Homo sapiens: one gene and its partner. The protein of the gene in region 2 interacts with the protein of the main gene of each other region in a pairwise test. Each region holds a gene or a part of one and is shown on either strand. Other genes may lie near its edges.

The links.
Region 1: the proteins of SPTA1 (region 2) and ENAH interact in a two-hybrid assay, tested with the Homo sapiens proteins (one study listed by IntAct).

What each region holds. Positions count from the first base shown.
Region 1 is NC_000001.11:225,650,936-225,654,851, forward strand, and holds the start of ENAH (protein enabled homolog), read right to left. Parts: upstream 2,027-3,916; 5' UTR 1,756-2,026; coding exon 1,751-1,755; exon of another isoform or gene 1,430-1,750; coding exon of another isoform or gene 1,383-1,429; intron 1-1,382. UniProt on the Homo sapiens protein: Ena/VASP proteins are actin-associated proteins involved in a range of processes dependent on cytoskeleton remodeling and cell polarity such as axon guidance and lamellipodial and filopodial dynamics in migrating cells.
Region 2 is NC_000001.11:158,680,067-158,683,982, forward strand, and holds part of SPTA1 (spectrin alpha chain, erythrocytic 1), read right to left. Parts: intron 3,431-3,916; coding exon 3,305-3,430; intron 1,602-3,304; coding exon 1,461-1,601; intron 664-1,460; coding exon 517-663; intron 1-516.

The DNA of each region.
Region 1 (3,916 bases), about 67 Mb from region 2:
CTGATAACTTCTGGTCTGCAAGATCCCTACGGCATTAGATCTCTAAAACAGAAACCAACAACATATAATATTACAAGATATAACAGTATGTATATTATAGTTCCTGAGTTTAAGGACATCAGTAACTTGATTTAAAAAAAAAGAAGTCATGCTCAAACATACGACTCAAAGTTTTCAAGCCATATTTTACAAAGATTGTGTTTTTTGGTTCGTATGCTATAATTACTATTTAAACTCATCGCTTATATTTGAAAATAACTTGTGTGAAATCATCAAGGGAAAAGGGGTCAGTCGCCTAGAGACACCACATTAAACTCACTCTTTAAGGCCATCATAAATACAGGTAACTTGGAATCAGAAAAAAAAATTCAAATTCACAGTAAGCCTAAGTAAAAATTCAACAAAGATATATCACAATATATATATAAAAGCAAAATGGAAACACGTTTAACCTTGATAGAAAAAAAAAATGAAAAGCAAAGTTTAAAATGGAAACTACCGAAATTGAGAAAGAATTCCAATGACATGACATTTTCTTGCCAAAGCGAAGGAATTTGTAGATTATATCATTCAAATCTCATTGTATTACATTATAAAGGTCTTAGCAACGGTTGGCCATTAATCTTTAACACAAAGGAGATTCAAATCCAAATGAACTGTAAGACTATCTCTTCCAGGAGAGAGAAATGGAGTAATTTACTTTATCCACAATTGTTTAACCCAAAAGGAAGGCCTTTAAGGATGATAACGCAGAATGGATCAGCCTTCAGTCTACCAAGTCCCATTTCACACGAAGTCTTGCACCAATCCGAAAAGAGAAGGTTATGGACACAGAACAGGTTTAGGAAAGGCTGGAAAAAAAATCTCCAATGAATGACACACCACATCACGGTTTATTCTCCTACACAATTTGAGAAACAATAAAGAAAAATATCATACCATATGTTTCATCGTATCAATTAAAAAAATATTTTACGACAGTACATTCAATTCTTCGGGGCCGCAAAAATAATTTAGCTCCTGTTTTATTGAGTACAGAGCAAAGGGAAAAAGCAGCTGCTGCAATGCAACACAGGCTGCTACAGAGAAAGGGGAGAAAAGGCTTTTCCAAACAGATCCCTTCCCCGCCCCCGCTTACACACCCCTACCAACTTACTTATCCCAGTCTTTTACTGCCCCCACCACGTGAACCTAATCAATTCTTTCCCTTCCCCCACCATCGTGAAATTTCACCTTTCACAGCTCCTTCACCTACCCCTACCAGAGGCACTTTATTACCCGCAGAGATTTCAGACCTTTCAAACTTTTCTTCCTTTTTTAATTAAACACGAGAGTTCGGAGGCAAAAGTGCATGAAATTTTTACATATATACGAAAAAATACCTGTTTCCCAGCAACACGCACGCTTCGATTCTCGAACCCCTCCCCATCTCCCGGGTTTCGCTTGCAAAGGCTTGGGGGAGGGAGCCAGGCGCAAATTAAATTTAGGAAGGGAAATCCTGGGTGAAAGAAGAGCATTTGAGGAAAAATGAGAGAACGATGAAGCGAGACCCCCAAACCACACGGGTTGGGGAGGTTTCCAAGAAAGAAAGAGAAATTGGAAGGGACAAAAGGCGGAGGGGGGAGGAACAGACCGGAGACCAGGGGAGACGCGCCGGGCCGGGAGAGGGAAGGCGGGGTCCGAGGAGAACGGGGGTCGCGGCTCCCGCGGCACAATGGCCCGCCCGGCCCCCGCCCCGCGCGCCCCTCACCTCATGGTGCCGGCGGCGCAGAGGCTTCCCCACCAGCCGGGAGACGCAGAAGGCGCCGAGCCGAGGGGGGGGTCTCTCCTCCAGGGGTGGGGAGCAGCTCGGAGACGGGAGACAAGTGTCCGGCTCCTCCTTCGGCGGCCAGGGGGCTACACCATCTCCTCGCACAAAGCCGAGGCGCCGGCCGGGAGTGTGGGAGAAGAGGGCGAGAGAAAGGCTGGGGAGGGGGCGGAGAGGCCGAGGCGCGGAGCTGGTCCCCAGGCGGCCGCCGCCTCCCACCTCCTCGTGGTCCTGCTCCTCCTCCCGGAGCTTCCTCGGCCGCCCTCTGAGGGGTGCCCGCCGGGGCCGCGCGCCCGGCCGCCGCTCCACAGGCCCGCGCTCGCCGCGCCGCCGCCGAGGCCGTGTGCAACCGGCAGCTGCTGCAGCCGCGGGAGGAGAGTCGGGATCGCCGCGAGGAACCCGGGAGGAGGCGGGGCGCGCGGCGGAGGAACACGCAGGCGCCGCCCTCCTCCCCTCCTTCCCCCGGGGGCGAGGGGGCGGTGCGGGGGGAGGGGAGGAAAGGGGAGGCGGGGGGCCGGGCGCACTCCCCCGCGCCGGCGGCCGGGCCCCCGCCGGACTGCGGAGAGCGAGGCTGGGAGAGAGCGAGCGCGACGGCGGCGGCGGCGGAGAGAGGCTCTTTGTTGCCTCCCTACCCCGCCCCCTGCACCCCTCTGGGATTCGGGCGGGCCACCACCCCCCCCTCCCGCCCAACACCTCCGGCCAGTTGTCGGCCGGGGTTCCTCGCCCGTGGTTGTCCTTGACCGTCGGCCCCCTCCCCGTCGCCTCCCGCTCCCCAGAGGCTTGGGGAGCTCCGAGGCCTCCCCCACGGCCACGGTGCGGAGACCGAGGCGCCGAGACCTCCTGGGCGCCAGACCCGTAGGCACCGGCGTGGGGAGCTTGGACGCGTGACTGGGCACAGGGCCGGGCCAGGAGACTCCGGGTCGGCTCGCGGCCGGGTGCCCTCGCGCGGGGCGAGTGCTCAGCCCGCCCTGTTGCGGTCTCAGGACGGGGATGAGGGAATCGGGGGGCATCCCGGTCAGCCCAACTGCCCGCCCTCGCCGCGGCTGCGCCCAGCGATTCCTGCGGAGTTGAGGAGGGGCATATAAATGGAAAATATGGTCATCATTGTTCCCTTCGCTCCTTTTCTTCCCGAGGAATCCCAGCGTGCTGCGCCGATGGAACGAGTTGATGTGCACACTAGGTATAGGGATGACTTCATCCCCAAACGAACGCAGCCGACTCTCGGGGAAACGCAGTCGCCGGGAGACGCGCGCGGAACAGTGTGTTGCCGCAAGAGTGGAAGAAGAGAAACGCAGCCAGTGGAGCCGCTTTCCAGCGTCATTAGCAAAGAGGGAATCCCGGGCAGGGGGCGGGGAGAGAGAGGAACTAATGATAATTTTAAATTTTTCGTCATTCCCAATGGTCTTGAAGTCACCTCCCTTAAAAAGTAGATATAAAATACTGGCGAGGCAATTTCATTTCAAGTCAAGTCGGGGAGGAGGGCATCCAGGAAGCCAGAATTGATCGTTGTTGAAGGTTTTGTTTTCGGTTTTTTTTAAATCTAAAAACAAATCCAATAATAAAATTTTTAACTGTACGAATTACGGCCCCCTTTTAGTCCGGAAGACAGGGATGTACTTTCTGTATAAAAGGTGAGGAGGATAGAAAAGGGTTGTTGCTACAGGGATCCTATTGCTGAAGGATCTCATCCAAAATGGAGGACCTACCATGACTCCAGGAATCCATTCAAAAGTTTTGGTGTTTTGTTTTAAGATGCAGGTACCATTCAAAAGATAGTTAGGAAGGTTGGGATAATGTACACTTCCAAATGAAAAGACAGGTTATAGTGATCCGTGGTCAATGCCTGATTTGTCTATAATTGAACTGTGTAGCCCATTTTTAACCATAAAAAAAGCTTCCTGGTTTCAGCCGGGTGCGGTGGCTCACGCCTGTCATCTCAGCACTTCGGGAGGCTGAGGCAGGCGAATCATCTGAGGTCAGGAGTTCCAGACCAGCCTGGCCAACATGGCGAAACCCTGTCTCTACTAAAAATAAAAAATAAAAAAACAGCCGGGCGTGGTGGTGCACGCCTGTAATCCCAGCTGAGTCAAGAGAATCGCTTGAACCCGG
Region 2 (3,916 bases):
ACACATCACAAACTTAAGTATTTTCTTAAGTAAATAAAAGTAAAACCGCTTCCTTTCCTTCCTCAATCCTCCGAAATAATCTTGTATAATGATATTACATATGCATATATATGTATAAATAATGATAGCTCAACATTATTTTATATGCTCTGCTACTTTATTTTTGTGTTTTTTCATGAAGAAAGAGTGCCCCATTAACATGAGTAATCAGTGTACTGCATGGTACAGAAGCTACTATATAAATGGCAATAGCTTCACTGCCCATTGTGTATTTAATTTCTCCAAACACACAAAAACACACTCTCTCTTTCTCTCTCAACCCTCCATTTCAATAGACTTGTAAGGGGTGGGTCCAGAGGGGAGAGGAAACTGTTCAGAATATGTTACTCCAGGAACATGCCAACCTCTGTTTTCTCACAATGCCCCATCTCCTTCATATCCATCTACTAATGGCCAGAAGTTATTCTTAAGGATAAGAACCCTTTGCACGGAGTGAATATTTTGCTCCCACCTCACCTCGGCACACTCATTGGCATATTGGTTCACTTCAACAACTCTCCCTTCTTTAGCTACCAGCTCCACTTGGAAGTCTTCAAATTTCTTATGCAGAACTTCGGTGCGCTCCCAGTCTTCACCTAGCTCCACTGATGTCGCTATAGCCTCCTGTAGACACAGAAGTTGATTGAGTTGCCAGCAAACATTTAGGAGTTTCTGTAGGTCAAAAACTCAAAACTCCTGCTTGCATTCCCAGGATAACTCAAATGGAGATACTGGGGGAGACTGGGAGAAGCTCTCCTGGAAAAGGCCAGCAGCAGAAGTATATTTGTTAAGGTAGCACCTTGGCACAAGGGAAAGTGCTCTTTCGGGCAGTTCTTTAGCAAGTTTGTGGCATTACTGGCAAGAGACCCTGAAAGTACCCTTTTGTGTTTTGAAACATGAGGGATAAATTCATCCTGTTTCTACTCAATTCAACATATCAGTATCTACGAAAGTATTTTGTTAGGCATTTGCTTATCTAAATCTTTAGTCCTAACTATTAAATTATTCCTTTAGTATTTAGAAAAATAAAACCCTCCATCTTTATAGGCACTGAGACACAAAGGATTAGAGAAAGAGCTGTCAATACTCTCAGCCAGACCCCAGAGTAAGAGCAAAAACATAGGAGAAGGAGTTAAAAATCATGGAAGTGGAAGAGAGATGAGCCTAATTATCTTTCAATGCATGGTCTTTGTGTAAGTCTTGCCTTTTTCATATTCAGATCCATATGTTAAGACTTACTTCCATACAATGTTGACCTCCAGATACCCCTACATTTTGGCCCCAATTTCCTCTTGTTCCAAAGAACAAAGCCAGGAACAGACATCCTGACTTCCTTGTGAGTAGTCTGCAGTAATTTGCTATGGGGTACCTGGGACAGAGGAGTGGGAGGCCCTGTGTGATTGCTGTTTTAAGTTCGATACCTTGTCTCCAATCCACTCTAAGATGTCAGCACACTCCTGTACATACTGCTGGAACTTCAGGGCCCGCAGCAACTGGTCACCCTTCTCCAGGGTCAGCTCTAACAGCAGGTCCCACAGGTGGCGTAGCTCCTCTATATGGGCCTTTAGGAAAGAGGGGCAAAACCACTCAGCCACAGACACTGGGAGCAGGGAAACACTCAGAGACTTGTGCAGAAAGAGACCTGGATAAAAATTCTTCTCTCAGTTACTCATGCATTAGTTGCTCAACAAACATTTAAAAGAGGAAATAGGATAGATATATGGAAATAGCTAACAAGCCAAGCCAAATGCGATCTTACATAAGAGAACAATTTGTAAAAATGCTTTGCAGTTTTAAAGGATGGAATAATTACAAACAATAAGATGGGAAGGAGGAAGAAAGCATGGAAAAGTGTTCATTTGAACTGAGCCTTATGGAGCAGAAAGATTTTTGACAGGTCAATCATAAGCATAACATGTTCTAAGAAGAGCAAACAGCAATAGCAAAGGCATAGGAGAAACTTAGCATGAATTGTCTGCCAGAAAGTGTGAGAGCTATAATTTTTATAAGTTATAAGGAAATCATTGGCACCGAAACAATAACAGTGTTTTGGGACTATACAGTTTGAGAATCTACAGAGGGCTTTGAATGCCAGATTAACTCAGAACATTATGTATTACCTGTCTTATATAACTGAAATTGCCACCTATGTCATATCTTCAAGAATCTTATATTTTTCAACTACTCCATTGCTCTGGGTAGCATGTGGACCACATATGTCGTTAAACCCCGCAATGGTACCATTTGCTATAGCCCCAGTGATTCTGACAGAAATGAAGATGTTTCAAACATTTCTCAAATATTGTAATTAATGTAGATGCTGGTTACATGCAAAACTGTGCATAATACAAAAGTTAATTATACTTTATACAAATAAACAAGTTTTGAAATTTTCCTTTTATGGGTTCTTCTTTAAAATAAGATTCTATTCTGGCTAAAATCTGTGTCCGTTGACCATATTTTGATGACAGAATGGGCTAGAATTTTTATGCTATATATAGAAAGGCCAGACCCAGTTTTAAGATATATAATGCAAATTTGTTTTGACAATTAAAAAAATACATAAACAGTAAAAAGTTCACTCACACACAAAAAAATTGAATTGACAATATTAGCACAAACATTTGGAAGAGTTCGTAGATTAAGTCCAAAAATAGCTGTTACATTAATAATAGATTACAGAGTATGAATCCTTATTGAAATAGTGATGATCTTCATTTCTAGATGTTCAGAGAAAATTTTCTGACTACATGACATTTGGGAGTTTTTAGAAGTAATAAGAAGGGACAGTTTGGAGAGGTGCAATAGTAGTCATAGGGTATGGTGTATGAAAAGAAAGAGGCATCATAGACAAAGGAAAAATATTTTGGAAAACATTCAAATGAGAGAGCATTCCTTATTTGGAGAAGTTAAGAGACAAGGACATTGAGGTTAGAGGAAATAATTAGAAAGAACATTGGAAAAAACTAATTGATCTGGATAATGTGGAACAGGTTTAAGTGGGCTTGATCTTGAGCCAAATTATCCTGCACTGTTATAGGAGGAATTTTATGCCATTTAATGACAGCTTTAATATCACAGCTCTCTTCACCCCAAGAAACACGAAGATATCCCATCATTTTTTATGCCTCAACCCCAGGGGAAGATAAGAGGCAGGAGTCCTGGGTATAAGCCAGCCACTCAAGGTTTATATCTCATATAATCAGTTAAAACCCTGATAACATAATCAATAATTGGAAACTTCTTCAAGGGCCCATACATATACCTTCGTTTCTTCGTGGGCAGAATGACCCATGGTAAATCGTTCTTCCCTTGTTTTTTCCAGTTCAGACATGAGTCTTGATTTTGTTTGCACCTCTGCTTCAAGGGATTGATGCTTCTGATATTTCCCCTAAAGTTTAGAAATCAGAGTTTTTGTCTAATGAAGCACAGTCTTCATGGGAAATGTTCACTCTATGTAAAGCCACCAAACACAGGTTCTCAAAGGGTCCCAGACTCAGAGGCCATAAAGAGTATTTTCCTGTCCCCACTGGCTTTAGGAAGTTTTCAGTAAATACTGTCCTGAGCTATGCTGAGCCTTATGATCTATGCCGAGCCTTATTTTAAAGGCTCAATAGACTGCCATAGGAATAAAAGAGTGTAACACACAGTGTCCTTCCTCATCAGAAAAGAGGAATAACTGATTTTTTTTTGGAAGTAGAGCACAATGAGAAAGATGATAGTTATAATAATGGTTTTTAAAAAAAAAAATTGAGAGTTTTTTTTGCATGCTGTGCCTGTTCTTGTAATCTATAAATTGATCCATTCAATATAGCACATTATTTTGCTCTTGTTCTAGGTGTTTCCTGTCCAACATCAATTGCTTCTGATTATGACA